2 separate regions of the Homo sapiens genome follow, and region 2 is linked to region 1. The links come from fine-mapping of genetic effects on gene expression. Tissue or cell type: monocytes. Region 1 holds a variant in brackets; the other region holds the start of a gene. All regions are shown on one strand. Distances are between the middles of the regions.

Region 1 (8,195 bases):
AAAGGGTGCAATGTGATGTTTCCTACTGGTAGGGTCGTATTTCATATGTGGTGATAGTGTTGCTGAACAAATAGGAAATATCCTTGCCTAGACTATATTTTATCATTTCATTATCTAGTGGTAAAGGAATGTGAGTTCTATTTACAAATAAACATTTTGTCTTACTTTTTTCTTTGTGATCTATTTTCTCCAAGTTGCATAATGTAATGAATTAATAAAGCTTAGTTGCTGGCCAAATCAATGGTGACTTTTTATGTTTTTAAATATAATATTAGGTTTAACTTATTTTTGTCATTAAAATATCATTTGTGAGTGCTTTTCAAAATGAAGTGCTTCTGAAATAAATCACATAATAAAACTAACCTTACTTTTGAAATACATTTTTATTGAAGCAAACACAAATCAATCTGAAATTCAGCATTTTGTAGCAGTTAAATGTATAGTCAGGCAGCTTCAACGTCAACTAGAGAAGTTGTGGTTTTAACCCCGAGATAGGGCTGATTATGCTGGTGCTATGGCAACCTATTGCACCATTTGGTAGCGCCTGTGTGCTTAACCGCATGAGCTGCGCCTCTTCCTTTCCTATAAAGACTCAGAATAAGAAAAACAGAAGTACACCGAAGAGAAGAAACCACAAGAGCAGTAAAGACACTGCTGTTAGCTTTTAGCTGTGCAAACAGCAGTCTTATGAGAACAACACATTGAAAACCTCTTCTATTTGAAAGTGTAGCTTTTCCCATTATGCCTGGGTTCCTTTAATGATTTTGAAAGTAAGCCAAGTGTTTCTGTTCAGAGTTTTCATTAAAGGGAAATAAGAAGAAATAAGCAGTGCATTTATCAGCCTTTGCTTTTATTGTCCTCAGCTTTAGGAGTGGGAGGCTTTTGTGCAGCCTCAGCAGACATTTTATTCTGTTTGTGAGATGGGAGATTAGTTTCTATTAGGTGGACTCCCTATAATCTAGCATTTATTTTCTGCTTTTTTTTATTATATTGTAGTTAGTTCACAAAAAAAAGTACAATTTTAATTCATCTCCTGGCTCATTTAGAAAGGGTTGTGGTTGGTGCTGTAAACACGTTTCTACATAACTAGATTAAATTCACAGACACTCACTGTCCTAGCACTGTTTATTTTCTATGGGGAGCTTCATTTACCTATTCTTTCCCTCACCCCACTTCTTTTACAAGGTATAGGTTGATCAGCAAAGGCTTTTGTATGTTTTCCTTTGTTTCAAAGTACAGACATAATATAATCATAACTTTTTTTTGCATGTTCTACTATTTTTCCTTCCTTAAAGATTTGGGTAAAAATACTGAAGGACAGACAAGTTCATGCTACCATTTTTGTTAGGCATAGGCCTGTTCACTTTTCTTCCCATTTTTCTGAAAAATAAGAATCTACCCCTTTTGTAGTCATTGTCCAGCAATTTACACTTTTTAACAATAAGTTTTAATGTGTGGTACTCTGAATCCCATTTTGATGGTTATACATAATATTTACTCATTTTTGAGTCCCTAATAGCTCTTTAGCACAAATACTGGATTTAGCATTAAATATTTTTTCCTTACAGTGCAATGCAGTTGAACAAGCATGGGGGTTTTTACAGTCAGACAGATCTGCATTTAAATCTAGACTCATTTTGCTACAAGTTCTTTATTTAGCCTTGCATACACGTTTTTATGATTTTGAGCTTTCATCTGTGAAAAGAAGAGAATACCATCTACTTTGTAGGATTTCTATAATGATTAGATAAAATAATATGTAACAGTATTTAGGACAGTGCCATTCACATAGTACCCGCTTATTAAATAGTAAACACTGTTGATAGCACCAAATACACTAATAAAAGATTTCACCACTTATGCAAACATCTTTTGATGATTCTTTGTTCTTTAATGATGATCGTAACCTATCCTAGAGGAAGCAAAGAGCTACAAAAACATACACTTACTAAGGGATTAATATAATTAAATGGTTTTTGCTATCTGAAGTATATTGCATAAATCAGGTATATATCCCTGGATTTAGGTAAATGAAAACAGACATTTTCATAAGAAGCAAAAAGATAATTAATATGGGAACAAACCTATTCTGGAAAATGTTTAAAAAGAGAATATGGGTAAGGAAGCATCTTTCTCAGTTGTTCTTAACCCTTGTTTCCATCATAATCACCATCAGAGCTTTAAGAAAATACCAGTGCACAGATCACGTTACCCCACAAACCTACTAAATCAGATTTTCCAGCGCTGGAGCCCAGAAATAGTCACCTTTAATCTAATTCCCAGTCAGGATTAATACAAATAAAGGATTGATATTTTTTCTTCCTCAGGATAATAATACTGGTTACACACACATAAATATACATAACTGATAACAAGCCAGAATTTTGTAAACTATGTTCTCAGAAACATTGCAGTTACATTGTACAAATGTCCTATAGTATGTCCATGGGAAAAAAATGGGTTTGTGGCAAATACTTTTAGGAGATCTTGAGCTAAACGAAGTGACATAAGTTTCTATGCTTTTAATATATTAACACACTTTATAAATATCTCAAAAGGGCATGTAGCATGAATTACTTCTGAAACAAATTTGACTATGGGACATTTAAAGGCACACAAATCTAAATCAAAGACTTCAATTTGACCATCATTGCACAGGAAGCGATAAAATTTTCCCCCTGACTTGTAGATAAATAGTTTAAGACAGAAAAAAAGCAGTGTAACTGATTGTTCTTAAATGGTTATCTAGTAGCCTTTATTAATTTTTTTGTCATTAATTGTTTCGTTAATCAACATGCCTGAAATATATAACATGATGTTTTAAACCAAATATAAAATACCTACAAATGCATTCCTAGTTTTGAGGTGTGTGTTTGCAAAGTCATATGTATTCACAAGCAAAAAACATTATTGTAAATATTGGACACCATAAGTCATTGGGAGACAGCTAGATATGGTTGCTATCTTTAAAATTTTTTAATTATTTGATTTTATTCCTCTCATGGCCACAAAAATTTGCCTTCTTTATCCTCAATACTGCTTTACATACTGATATTTTTCTTTATTATTTGCATTATTATTTAAAAGTGTGTATATAATTTGAAAGTTTAAATAGTACCATAAGGCCTAGAGTAAGTAAGAACAGTCTTTTGCTCCCACGACTCTCCCCTCCCTTGATATTTTGTGATTTTTAAATGTTATCTTTTATTGTAGTGCTGTTTCTTTAAAACAAAAAAAAAGATTTTTGCCAGTATCTATTGACTTCTTCTCTTGATCTTGAGATGTTGCTTTTTATAACCTCTTGCTCTTTGTTCATGGGTGCAATGTTTTCTCATTTCTGAAAATATGAATTGTAGTTGGTTATCCTCTCTTTTGCTCCTTGCATTGCCTCATTCTCCCAAGTGCCTCTTTTGTTTATTTGAGCTCTATCTTTCTTTCTTATTAGAGGCTTTGTTCTAGTGTTTCTTGGATGTCCATTTGTATTTAATAAAAGGCCTCAATAAAGGGATGTTGAAATTCTTTGGACATTGGTGGAGCTCATAAATTCATGTGCTTTAACTAGATTGAATGAAATCAGAAAGGCACTACACTCACTGAGTCTTAGTTTCCTTATATATCAAATGAACTGCATGTCAATAATCACTAAAATCCTTTGCTTCTGTCTGAGTAGAAATCTTTGGAATTATTTTCTGATGATAAGCAGAAAGTCCTTTACTCATGAGATTCCAAAAATAATATTAATATACCCAATATTTTAACATAACGTCTACATAAAGAATAAGAAAATTATTAAATAGACACTATTTCAAATCTAGCACTTTCCTCGTGTGTGCCTGTGAGCAATTTACTAAACTCTTTTAGGTCCCAGTTTCATTCCCTATAAAAAAGGATAAATAATGCTAACTCATTGGCTTACTGGGATGCTTAAAAGAAAAAAAATACATATATATTATATAAAGAGGTGTGCATAGTGTCTGCTACATAACATTTCAGTAAACTGTTGCCATCATTATTATATTTACTGATAAGCTAATGGAGGGTAGAAAAGACTGTTTCCTGTGGTTCTCTGAAATCATAATACCTGGCTTGTCGCTGCCCAGAGTGCTTACTCCATAAATACTTAATAATTTAATATGATTTGTTAGATTTATTGTCTGTGGACCATATAGCAGATTTCTAGCA[T/TA]AAAAAAAGTGCAATTCTCTTATTTTTATTGTGCACTTTATTATTATCATGCATTGCTAAGAAAGGAAAGCCATACATATCTGTTTTAGCTGACCCTTATTTTTTGTCTTGATTTGCTTTTTTCCACTTTTGTACAGGCTTTATGTTTATGGAGGTCAAGTATGCATTCTCAACCTTCAAAACATGCTATCATTCATTTTAGGGCAGATGCTGAGAATAAGTATTTATTTAATCTATTCTATTTTACCCTTCTGCCCTTGTACTTTTCCCAGATTTGCAGAACTAGACAGGTTTAAATTCCCTAGGAAATAGCATCCCATTTTTTTTTCTTTTTTTTTTAGCGGGGAGGGAGAACGGGTGATATTTAAAGCCCAAGTATGTCTTTTGAAATGCCGTTTTCACTCAAATTGATTCCTAGTTTTTGCTGAAATCTCTGATCAGGGACTTAGGGGTGTGACTTCAAGGTAACTTTGATTTGTGATCATTTAAACATTTTGAGTTGTAAAAGAAACATATTGGGAAAGGTAAATTCAGTAACAATACATGTGTTAGAATAACACAGCTTTGAAGATCAAGTGTTCTGTTATCTACATTTTCATCTGTTTAATGTATCTAGTCAATTCCATTGGTGATTCACAACAGGATTATAATGGGAAAAAGAGCTCTTAGATAATTTACAGTTTTTTAGTGCTATGGTGCCACCTACTGAAATATTACTAAATACTCCTTTGACTAAATAATGAAAACACAAGACATTTAAGTTTTAAAAAATGTAGAAAATTTCATCCCTAGAAGATAAAAGTCAAAGTGTAGAATGTAGTAACTGTAATATGTGGAACACTAGATATATTACTGTGTTTTATTTTATATTTATTTGATGTGTTTATAGAATTTGAGAGAAAGCTCAATGCAGTTCTTACTTTGAGAAATAGTGATGCCTTCTCTTTATTGTCACACACCTACACATGTGCCCTCTTAATTTCCATTGCTATGTCACATATTTTGCTTTACCTATTTTCCACACTTTCCCAGTATTGTTCATAAAGAATGTTTACATATATTGTAGTGTAATTTGTATTAAACAATCTCCAAATATTAAATATTTATTGTGCACTGGTTATAAAATACTTTATGCAAAAATTTTGTTTGCTTTTCCCAGATCTATTTGACTCCACTAAGAATATATTGTTGCTTTTAAGTAATACAGGAAATAGGGTAGAGTACAAGGCTGTCTACATACATAAAACAACTTAGGTAACTACATCAGTTCATTTGTTTTGCATTGGACAAGCACAGTAATATTTAACCATATACTCCAGTCTAAATGGATAGGTCATGAAGTAGTTAAATATGTTATACAACCAATCTTTTGTTGTTGTTGTTGTTGTTGTTGTTTTTGAGTCAGGGTCTCACCCTGTCACCCAGGCTGGAGTACAGTGGCACCATCACATCTCACTACAGCCTCAACACACACTCATGGGCGTAGCCTCCCAAGTAGCTGGGACTATAGGTGTGCACCACCCTACCCGGATAATTTTTGTATTTTAAGTAGAGACGAGGTTTTGCATGTTTCCCAGACTGGATTGCTTGGTTCAAGCGATCCAGCTGCCTCTCCCTCCCAAAGTTCTGGGATTACAGGTGTGAACCATTGCACCTGGCCACAACCAATCTCATCAGGTCTTTTTTTTCTATCAGTGAAGATTCAGCACAGTGGCTTCTATCTATGATTTTGGTAATGTTTAATAATGTTTGCACATATGAAGTGCAACAGACAATTGAAGTCATTGCTCATGTAATTTAGGAAGAATTAAAATATGATAGAGAATTAATAAATTATTGCAGATATTTGGTTTTATAGTTTTCTCTAAATAGTTAAGTACCTTCACCTACTCCCTACCTTGTTTCATATATAAAGGCATTCTCCACCAAAGTATTTGTTAGTGTTCTGCTAACGTTGATGTAAAAATCATTAGATGACTGGGGGGGCGGGGTGTGGGGAATGTCCTTTAGATGTTACGTAGGTGTTTTAACTAAGCTATTTTATATAGGTCACATTTAGCGTGTTCCTACTTTAAGACTGGTAAAATGTTTAACATTAAAAAGACTGAAAAATAGATTTATGTAATCTAGTGCACATGGCTTATTAAAATTGATATGTTGCTTTAAGTTGCATCACTCTAGTGCATACCTTATTTCCTTAGGGGCATTGGCTTAAATTTTAAAGTAGTTTTTAATTTAAAATTTTTATTTTAAATAGATTCTATGTGTTTTTTTCAGGCACGAAAACATTTTTATGTCATTTATCATGTTGACTAAAAGTGTTACCAAAACTAAAAATCTGTTTATAGGGATTTTATGACCATGAGAACAAGCAAGTTGAGTCTTACACTAAGTCTAAACAGTGATGCTGAAGTCTTGGAATTTTCTTTTAAAAAGATAAAATGGTGTGTGGGGTGTGTGTGTGTGTGTGTGTCTGTGTGTGTGTGCACGCACATATTTGAAATAGTATATAAAAATGAAATAAAACATAGATTACAATGTTTTAGTGTCACCTAAAAATCACTCAGTGGAGGAATTTAGAATCATATCCAGTGATAAATCAGTGTACAAGCAAACACATATTCAATTCAAGAGGCCTTTATGGGAAGTAAGCATGAACATAGAAGAAAGGAAAATGTTGGCTCTTTAGATATTATACTGTTTTCCAGGATATTAAATTTTGCTGCATTAAAGATGAAAAGATTCGAGGAAATTTTGAATATGGAGCGATGATGAGATCAGAAAAAAATGTATATGTATGCCCATTATTCTGTCCTCTAGCTCCAGAAACCTCTTAACATCTAAACAAAAGGTCTGTAAATTTTAATAATTGTGCTTGATATTAGTGTAGTTTGGTTGACTTTCCTGTCAAAATAGTATTCTGTAATAAATTAACTTGACACACCTCTAAATTTTCTCTAATATTTGTTTGTACCATTATAGAGCATTCACTCAGCACATTGTGATTTAATCTGCATATCTATTTTTAGGGTCAAGGTTATTTTAGCATTTGTAGCACTACTAGTAATTTACTTGCAGCCAAATTATGATTAAGATGCATTTTTACTTAGCTCATGAGTTTTTAATAAACACCTTCTGTAAAAGAATTCTCATGCTTAAAATTTCATATGAAGAGGAAAGGCTGTAAGGACAAGTTGATGGGAAAAGGGGACGCCTGATGAATGAGAGCATGGCCTGTAAAGTCAGACAGGCTCAGGTTCAAGTCTGGCTCACATATACTAGACTGGCCTTGTGAACTTGGCCAAGACACTTGACTTTTCTAAGCTTCTTAGGGTTTTTGTGGTGCTTAAGAAAGAAAACATAAGCAAAAGACTTAGTATAGTGCCTGGCACCCAGTAAACACTCAATAAATATTAACAATTAATAACAATAAAATATTATTTCTAAATTATTCTTTAAAAAAGTAAATCATTAGAAACAGTCTTCTCCGTTTTGGTAATTTACCTCTTGTCCTTCTTTTCAGAAGTTAGATTAAAATAATATACATCATGTATTTCTTTTAAAAAACGTATTGCCTTTGGACCACTTGGAAGTTTATTAATCTCTCTGAGACATGGAACATATACGTAGTCTGATGAATAGTGTACTGGTTGGAAACAGTTCTAGTATATTTACTCAGGCATTCACAGTTCTTTTGTTAAAAAACAAATAGCTTCACATAGTGTCCCAGCATTTTTCTTCTCATTTCTGTGGTAAACAGATGATGAATTATAATTTTCTTTTATGAAACTCTATCTATAGTTGGTGCTACACATTTTGGTGACAACAAAGTAGTAAATCAGAACAACAGAATATAGGGGTCTGTGGAATTAGTGGTGCAGGTAACATTAAGATTTCTCTTTTCTCTGTCATCAAATTTGCTTTCTGATTTCTCCTCTGTATTAACTGATCCAATGGCTTCCGTCATTCTGAGGAAAAAGTTCAAGCTCCTTTTCAAGGCCTACAGTGCTTGC
Region 2 (8,195 bases), 46 kb before region 1:
TGCCTAGAATACTTTCCTTCTCCTCATACTCATTTAACTTATTTTCTTCAGGTCTAGCTCCATTGCTTTTTATTCCAGGAAAACTTCCCAACCTCCAGAATAGACCAAATATCCTATTATATGCTTAAATCACAGTGTGGAAGTATTGCCTTTGTGATGAAAGTGTCATGATGACTGGATAATTAATTATTGTGTCTTCCACTAAAGTGTAGATAGGAAAGAAAGCATGCCTGTTTTTGCTCACCATTTTTTCCTCATGTCAGGTAAAATGACTGGATTACATTAGGAACTTGCTCTGTATTTGTTGAATGAATGAGTGAATGAATGCATGAACAAATGAGTAACATCTGCCTCTGTAGTTAACTTGTAATCTGTTTCTGTCTTTATATAACCTCTACTGTAGGTAGCCTTAAAAATCTGGAAAATGACTTTATTGATTTAAGTAAATATTAAGTTTTTAAGCTTTTAAAAATCTATTGTAAGTTGATTAACTATGATTATTTTGAAATTTTCTTCATCAAAATTTGAGATGACTTTGGATACATACTGTTTTCAGCTACTCAACAAGTGCCATTGTATTTACTATGTATGAAATCTGGTGTTACTTCCTGCCCATTTCCTAGACTCAGTTGTTCTTTGCAAAATACCCATTTATCAGCAACCAGCCCACCCTCCCTCTGGGAATCAGTGAGAGTGGATCACATCAGTATGTCATAAATACTCCTCCTGTTTTCTTTGAGAGTTTTCTGCTGATGCAAGCGGAAGGCTTGGATGCCAGGCCTGTATGTGATACAGTAGAAATTTCCCCAGATGCCCTGTGGAAAGACAAGCTGCTACCCGGAGTCCTTCCTGGATGTCTGGCTTAGTGTAGTATACCATCAAGGACAACCTGGCTCTGTCTCCTAACAAGCTGCTAGGGCCTTCCCTCTTGCCTACCCTCCTGACAGCCTGGACCTCAGGCTAACAAACCTCTGGGTTGCCACTGTCTCCATTCTGAGCCATCAGAATTGTATATACATTCATCTGCTGATGTCTCTGTATTTCAAGCTGTATGTCTTTACACCTTTATAATACACAGTACAGATTTTGCTGCTTAAAATTCTAGTATTTCCTATAGACACTAAACTCAATTTTAACACAATGAATATGTTAAAACATTATATATGTGTTGGATTAACACATATAATGCAACTCATTTGTTGCTAATCTATCTTGGATTCCTTGGGTAGAATCTGTCTTCTCACCTGTCTGAAATGGAATTGAATCTCCTAACTTCTTACTATTTTTTTAAAGCCACAAATCCCTTTTAAAATGTCCGTTTAAGGCTGCTAAACTCACATTGTTATAGAGTATATTTTATATACTTTTCTTCCTTTTAAAAGATCATATACACTTTTCTCCTGGCCTCTAATTTTGCCAAATATTCTGCCATAACAGCAAGCTCACAGAACACAAGTATTTGCTTAAAGATATTTAAAGCAAATCCCCAAAGAGTTTTCTGTTGCAAATGTATTTTAAGACATAGGCTGAGGAGCTGAGTATTCAAATCCATGAGTTCTGACACTGATGTTTTATTAGGCCTACCCACATGAAAATTAGTGCTTACTTGCACAGTTATCTTATTTAAAAATACATTTGCAAAAAGAGAATAATTTCATTTTCACTGATTCAAAGGTCTATCTTTTCGAGTATTATAAACTTACATAGTACAAAAAGATTGGTAAAAGGGATGAGAAAAATAAAGGGCAATAGTAAGGTGAGTAAGGAAAGCAAAATTAAACTTGGAGACTTGGGTTCTAAATATAGCTTGTCTACATCCTAGCTGCAAGATCTTAGGCAACTCAACTAACCTCTCTGAACATCACAGATAAAATGGGGAATAATAACATTATCTAGCTCAAGGGTATCGTACAAATTATACAATATATGTAAAGTGCAAAGCATAGTTCCTGCACATAGTAAGTGCTCCATAAGTTAAATATAATAATAATCATAGTAAAATAATATTCTTAACTACAATCTTATTAAAAGGTTATTACCTAGAGTTTAAGCTGTGGGGTTATTTCCATTTGCACAAAGTGTGATAGAAATTTGGCTCTGTAGTTCCTAGCAGCCAATGTAAGAGTAAAACAAAAAAGTTTGTAAGTATCAAAAGATTTATTTACTTAAATATAAGAACCCTACAATAATGCTTCCAAACTAGGGTTTGCAGAATTACCACAAGGGCTCTGTCTGTCTAAAAGTCCCCCAAGCATTATCTATTGTTCAAATAAATGAGTTGCACATGTGTGTACTTTTATTTTTAAAGGCATATAGATATTGTATTAATAAAACCAATTCATCTAATTGTATTGTTGAATTTATACTTTTTGCCAGTAAGCATTTTCCTAATAGATGGACTTAACTAAGAACATCAGAATGGTGAAGAGCATTGTGTTAATACAATTCATTGTCTTATTTGTTAAAAAAGTTGAAAAAGTATTGCTGAGAAAAAGGAAACAAGTTAACTTTTGTTAAAGGTATCTCTTGGTTTTCACTGTCCTTTCCCTCATCAGTAGCGCCAAGAACATCTTAAGTCACAGAAACATTAGTTTTTGGAAGCAGGGTTTGCTGTAACTATAGTAGAAATGACATTCTGATTCCACTCCTAGCTTCACAAGGATATCTGTGAAAGATTTGGGGCAAAACTGTTAAGCTGTCTGAAAGTGCTTTTGCATAAGAAATGGGTTTTACTGCTAAAACTGTCATATTGCTGAGTTTTGAATGCCCTAATGGTAAATGATACTGGGTTGCCAAAAATAACCAGATTAGTAGTTTTTTCATTCATTTGGCCGTCTCAGTAAGTCAAATATTGATACTTTCTACTAAGTCATCTTGCCAACACCCATTTTGTTATACTTATGCTGAATCTGTTTGTCATCTCTTAAGTAAGAAAATTATTGATTATTTTGTGGGGATTTAATTTAAAAAAAATGGTAATGGATACTGTAAAGGAGCATTATTTGGATGGTTTAAAAACATCTTCCTTGATGGGAAAATCTTTTAAAAGGCTTTCTAACTTGGTGTAATTACTTGAATTAAGGAAGTGCAATGCCATTCTACTGACTTAGAACAACTTTTTTGACTTCCTGCAAAGAGGACCCTTACAGTATTTTTGGAGAAGTTAGTAAAACCGAATCTGACATCATCACCTAGCAGTTCATGCAGCTAGCAAGTGGTTTGTTCTTAGGGTAACAGAGGAGGAAATTGTTCCTCGTCTGATAAGACAACAGTGGAGAGTATGCATTTATTTATTTACTTTTACATTTTTGATTCGTTTTTACAGAGAAAAACTTCTACAGAGATAACAATTATTTTGCTTTTCAGAAGGACGCATGCTGTTTCTTAGGGACACGGCTGACTTCCAGATATGACCATGTATTTGTGGCTTAAACTCTTGGCATTTGGCTTTGCCTTTCTGGACACAGAAGTATTTGTGACAGGTAAGTACAAGGATATTAATATTTTTTAAATTATTTTTTCTCTTTTGGAGGAATGTTTGAAATAGACATAAAAATAATTTAAATGTGTTGGTAACTGGAAGTGAGAAGCCTGCTGTAAACCATCAAGATTGTTGTCTCAGGGAGACATAGCTAGTTGTGTGACAGAATACATTGTTTCTGTTTACAAAGACATAAATGTTTCGGGACAAAAAATACAATTTTAAAAGGAAAGCAATGTCTATCTGTATCTTTATTTACAACTGTTCAAAGATATTACAAAAGCAACATTATTACTTAACTTCCAAAGTGACAATAACACACATTTATAAAAGCCTGAGAATTTTTTAATGATAAAATAAGTGAGTTTTTATTCTTTTAACAAATTTGATCTTTTAAAAAGTCATAAAACAGCTTTGGTTGTATGTAAGCCACTCCCTCTTTTCAGACCTGAAGTTTGCTTCCTCAAATTTTGAATTTAATTGACATATTTTATTGAATACTTGGGTATATAATAGTTCAAAAATATATTGAGATATTTAGTAAAATATTAACTTTCTGCAATTTTTATCACAGAATGTATTTTAAATCAAGTTTTTAGTTTCTTGTTAATAGTTTTAATACATTTTTGCTTTAGAAATTCTTGTGGAGCCACCGCCCTTCCTGGGTGGTGGGTAAATATTACAGCCTTGATGAGATAGAAATATTTAAACTCTTAAAAATCATGCAAATGCTGTATTCAGTAGGAAAATGCAACTAGTTGGACTTCCAGTGCCTATTAAAGTTTGAAATCTTTGCACATTTATGGTCTATTCAATGGATAGTTCTTGAGCGGCGTCAATATGAATCATGAGTACATTTCAATAGATTATAGAATGTAACTAATAATTAATATTTAATATTTCTCTTTATGATGTAGTATCTAAAAGGACATTGAAAATAAAATTTTTGTAGAAATTCCAAAAAGTATAAAAAGTATTTTAAAACAACTTGCTTATTACAATTCACTTTGAAGTCTTTTTTTGACTTTTACCGTTCTTCTTTCCTCTGAAAGTCAGGGAAGTAGCTACCTCTTGAGCATGTTACATTGACAATTTCTATTTGGAGAGGAAAGAAAGAGGAAAGAAAAACAACATAAGATTTTTGTTGTTGTTGTTGTGGCTGTTTTGCTTTTTATTGCAAAGGTGAATTTTTTAAAAATCTATATATTTGCAGCATTTGTCTTAGTACAGAAAATGTTTATCAAGTTACCATCCCTTTAAAGCTTATGATAATAAAAAGTAAATTATAAAGAATAATAATCTCAATGAAGTGATATATGTATATTATCACAAATCAGAACAGATTTTCATTTAAAATTCCCACTCAGGAAATGTCGAAAAGCATTTTTAAATGAGCATAAAGAAATACTGAGACATTTTGTAAGCCAGAATATTTTTCTTCTCTTCATATTCATTTAACTTCTATTATTTTCTTCAGGTCTAGCTCCATTGCTTTTTATTCCAGGCAAACTTCCCAACCTCCTGAATAGACCAAATATCCTATTATATGCTTAAATCAGAGTGTGAAATATTTCCTTTGTGAATAAAAATTCAACTCATTCTATTACAGGATGTTTTTTTAACCATAAGACACATCTTTGAATTTATAATTGAAATAATATGATGGGGTCTAGAAACCTTTATATCAACTTTGCTGAATGATTTATACCATAGCAAATAAATGGATATACATAAATTTATTTTGAAAACTCAACTTTATCTTCAGTTGCTCACATAAATATTGAGAGCAAACATTTTTCTAAAAGACATTTGTAGACTCCCTGAGATATATGCTTATTTGTGGAAAAACATATACAGATATAATCATTTGTATCTGCAAATATTGTTTATAATCCTTTCAAGTTGCAAGAAACATTTTGTGATTTAATGTATAATTTGGAAAATTCTTAATGCTTTAAATTATTTATTTTTCTTTTTTAGCAACAAATGAGTTGGATTCTATGTTTCATTTTAACGTGTTAAAATTAGTTTAGTGCCTACAGGAAATAATAAACTTTTGGGGAACAAAATTTATATTGTATGCTGTAAAGGCATAAAGAAATAGAGCCAAATGTAGAGAGCCATCAATGGTAACTCTATGCATAATTCAAATATTTTATTTAATATCTAAAATGCACACACGGACAAGGCCAAAGTTAATCTTTGCCACGGCAACAACCAGGCAGGGTTCAGTTTTACTCAAGACTTCCTAATCCTCTTGCTCTGTGCCTCTTTGCCATGGCAACTGGAAGCCAAACTTTGTTTAGAATTTCTAAATAATGTTAGGGGACAATGATGGTTTTAAGAAGGCAGGTGAAGGTGAGTGTTCTCTGGTTCTAATAAAGTTGTAATGCCAGGCAGATCTACCACACTATAGCATGGCAGTTAGGAGTATATGAGTTATGGTATGTGAGGTATATGATGAGTTTTGTTATGAGTCATAACAGTTAAGACTCATTTCCTGGACATAATTCTTCATTTTTCCATCTGTATTAAAAATATATATCTCATGTTATAAACATGGACTGTGCCTTGCACATCACAGACATTCAATGAAAATTATTTAATTGAATTTGGTAAGCAGTCCTATTAAGTTCTAAATACTCCATAATTTAGAGATTTGGGAATGTGATTAGAATTACTTATTAATTTGAAAAAAAATGTCCTACTAAAAACCTGCCTGTGACCTTTATCATTGCTAAAGTTTGAAATGTACTTTGTTACAGGAAAGACTACGGCTAGGGCCTATATTATCTTTTTCTCTTTTGTTCTGTGTAAGTAAGTATAGGGGCAGAGTAGTTAGCTTGAACTTAGTTCTTTCTTTGTTCTGGACTATTTGCTATCCTCTCACCAGTGACAATTAACCAGTATAGAAATATAGATGTTTCTACATTGTTCATATACTTGAACATATATTTCTTTATGTAGATACTCACACATAAACTAGTTATATATTTGTGGGTTATATATACTAGTCAATCTATCTATCTGTCTATCTATCTATCTATCTATCTATCTATCAGTTCTCCATGTTTGTCTATTTGGCGTTCCCATGAACTTCAGACCTTCGCCTGTGTTCTCTTTTCTCCATTTGGTTACGTATCATTGCCTACTATGTGTTGATCACTCTGATTCTCCATCTCTAGACTCATCCCTCAGAAACACGGAACTTACTACCTTTCCTAAATCCAGACATTAACATGCTCCCCAAGTCCTGAAATTTTGCTTTGTAATAATCTCTAATAACTTCTTGCTTTGACACCTCCATTGCCATCATCTTAATTCATGGCTTTATTATTTCTCACCTGTAAAATTGTAATAGTTTTTTTAATCAGTCTGAAGTCTCATCCTTTTTTTAATGTAATCTACAGCTTAAAAAGTAAAATAAAAAGTGAAGGGTTACTGATTTCTTCTCATTGCCTTTGGTATAAATTCTAATCTTTTTTGCCAGAGAAACTGGTTCCACTAATGATCTGGGGGCTAGGCCTGGAGCTGGGAAGGGATCTTTTTTCTTTTCTTTCTTTCTTCCTTTCTTTCTTTCTTTCTTTCTTTCTTTCTTTCTTTCTTTCTTTCTTTCTTTCTTTCTTTCTTTTTTCTTTCTTTTTCTTCTATGATTGATTAAAAGAAAACAAACAGGAGGTAGTTTTAACACCCACCTCTATACTTTCTCAAGGTGTTTAAGGTTCTGGGCAAATCCTACTTCTTCTATTATGTTCTCTTATGTCACTTTTGCCACAAAATATTTCCATTGAATTGCACACTTTTTATCACCTTTTCTTGGCATTTTTCAAGTCATTTCAATCTGCTCTTTTTTGTGATGATGATTGATGATGATGATGACATGTGAATTAGTGGATTTCTTGACATTGTAACCTACATGAAATCAGGTATAGGAGACACAAAAGGCATAAACTCATAGTTCCCATACCTAATTTTTCACCAGACACTGAATAAATCATAGATTAAAAAAATAAAACTGCATATTGTAGTGACAAAGGAAAGGAAAATTTTCAAAGAGGGAAGTCAAAAAGAGGGAGAATATGAGATAAAAAAATTAACCAGAGGCGAAGTGGGAGGATGAAGACAGCAGGACTATTTTGTCCAGATTAAATTAAGTTGATTTTGGATCTAGATGTTTACAGTCTTGCCTTTTTGTTTTTGTTTGTTTGTTTGTTTGTTTTTTCTTTGCTCCCTTTCTTACTCTCCTTATCTCACCTCTCGTCTGGAAAGAGCCTCCTGACTTCCTAAAAGTTCATAGTTTGAGAATGTTTTTCCTAAATTTTCTTTGATCTGCTCTTTGGACATTCTAGGTAATGTAATTTGGAGGGTCAATTTTATTTTTCAGATACACATACCCATAGGAGAAAAAGCAAGGAATGGGAGGGAAATACAAATGTAGCGGAGTGATAACACAAACAGATCAGGTCCAGTCATGGCAATTGCTGGTTTGAACACTGATGCTAGTGCTCTGGGATTGCTTGCAAGGGCAGATGGAATATGGTGCACCCTAGGTGTTGCATTATTTGCACGACAAAAGTTTGTAGAGAGCTGGGAATAATTTCTTTACAGACAGTGTGGTGATGAATGTCAATCTGAGTAGGTAAGGGGCAGAGATTTGTACTGAGGTTGATTCATTCTCTTGGTAAATACACAATGTTCACAAAGGCAAGGTTTC

Which allele goes with the higher level. Positions count from the first base shown, and alleles are read on the strand shown. Sizes are in standard deviations (SD) of each study's normalised expression.
With allele TA in place of T in region 1, the expression in monocytes of the gene that starts at base 3,181 in region 2 is higher (small effect, 0.34 SD a copy in Fairfax 2014).

Evidence for each region. PIP is the estimated chance that this variant, and not a neighbour inherited with it, causes the effect.
Region 2: PTPRC starts here. The variant in region 1 is fine-mapped to the expression of PTPRC in monocytes (Fairfax 2014, PIP 0.92).

What each region holds. Positions count from the first base shown.
Region 1 is chr1:198,681,444-198,689,638 of GRCh38, forward strand. The region is part of intron 2 of PTPRC (protein tyrosine phosphatase receptor type C); the gene reads left to right. Among named protein-coding and RNA genes, the nearest start is that of PTPRC-AS1, 18 kb to the left of the region's middle. RefSeq lists an enhancer at 227-797. The variant T/TA (reference allele first, on the strand shown) is at 4,183.
Region 2 is chr1:198,635,860-198,644,054 of GRCh38, forward strand. It overlaps PTPRC (protein tyrosine phosphatase receptor type C), which reads left to right and starts at 3,181. Exons shown (of 33, transcript NM_002838.5): 1 at 3,181-3,278; 2 at 3,367-3,482. The coding sequence starts at 3,410.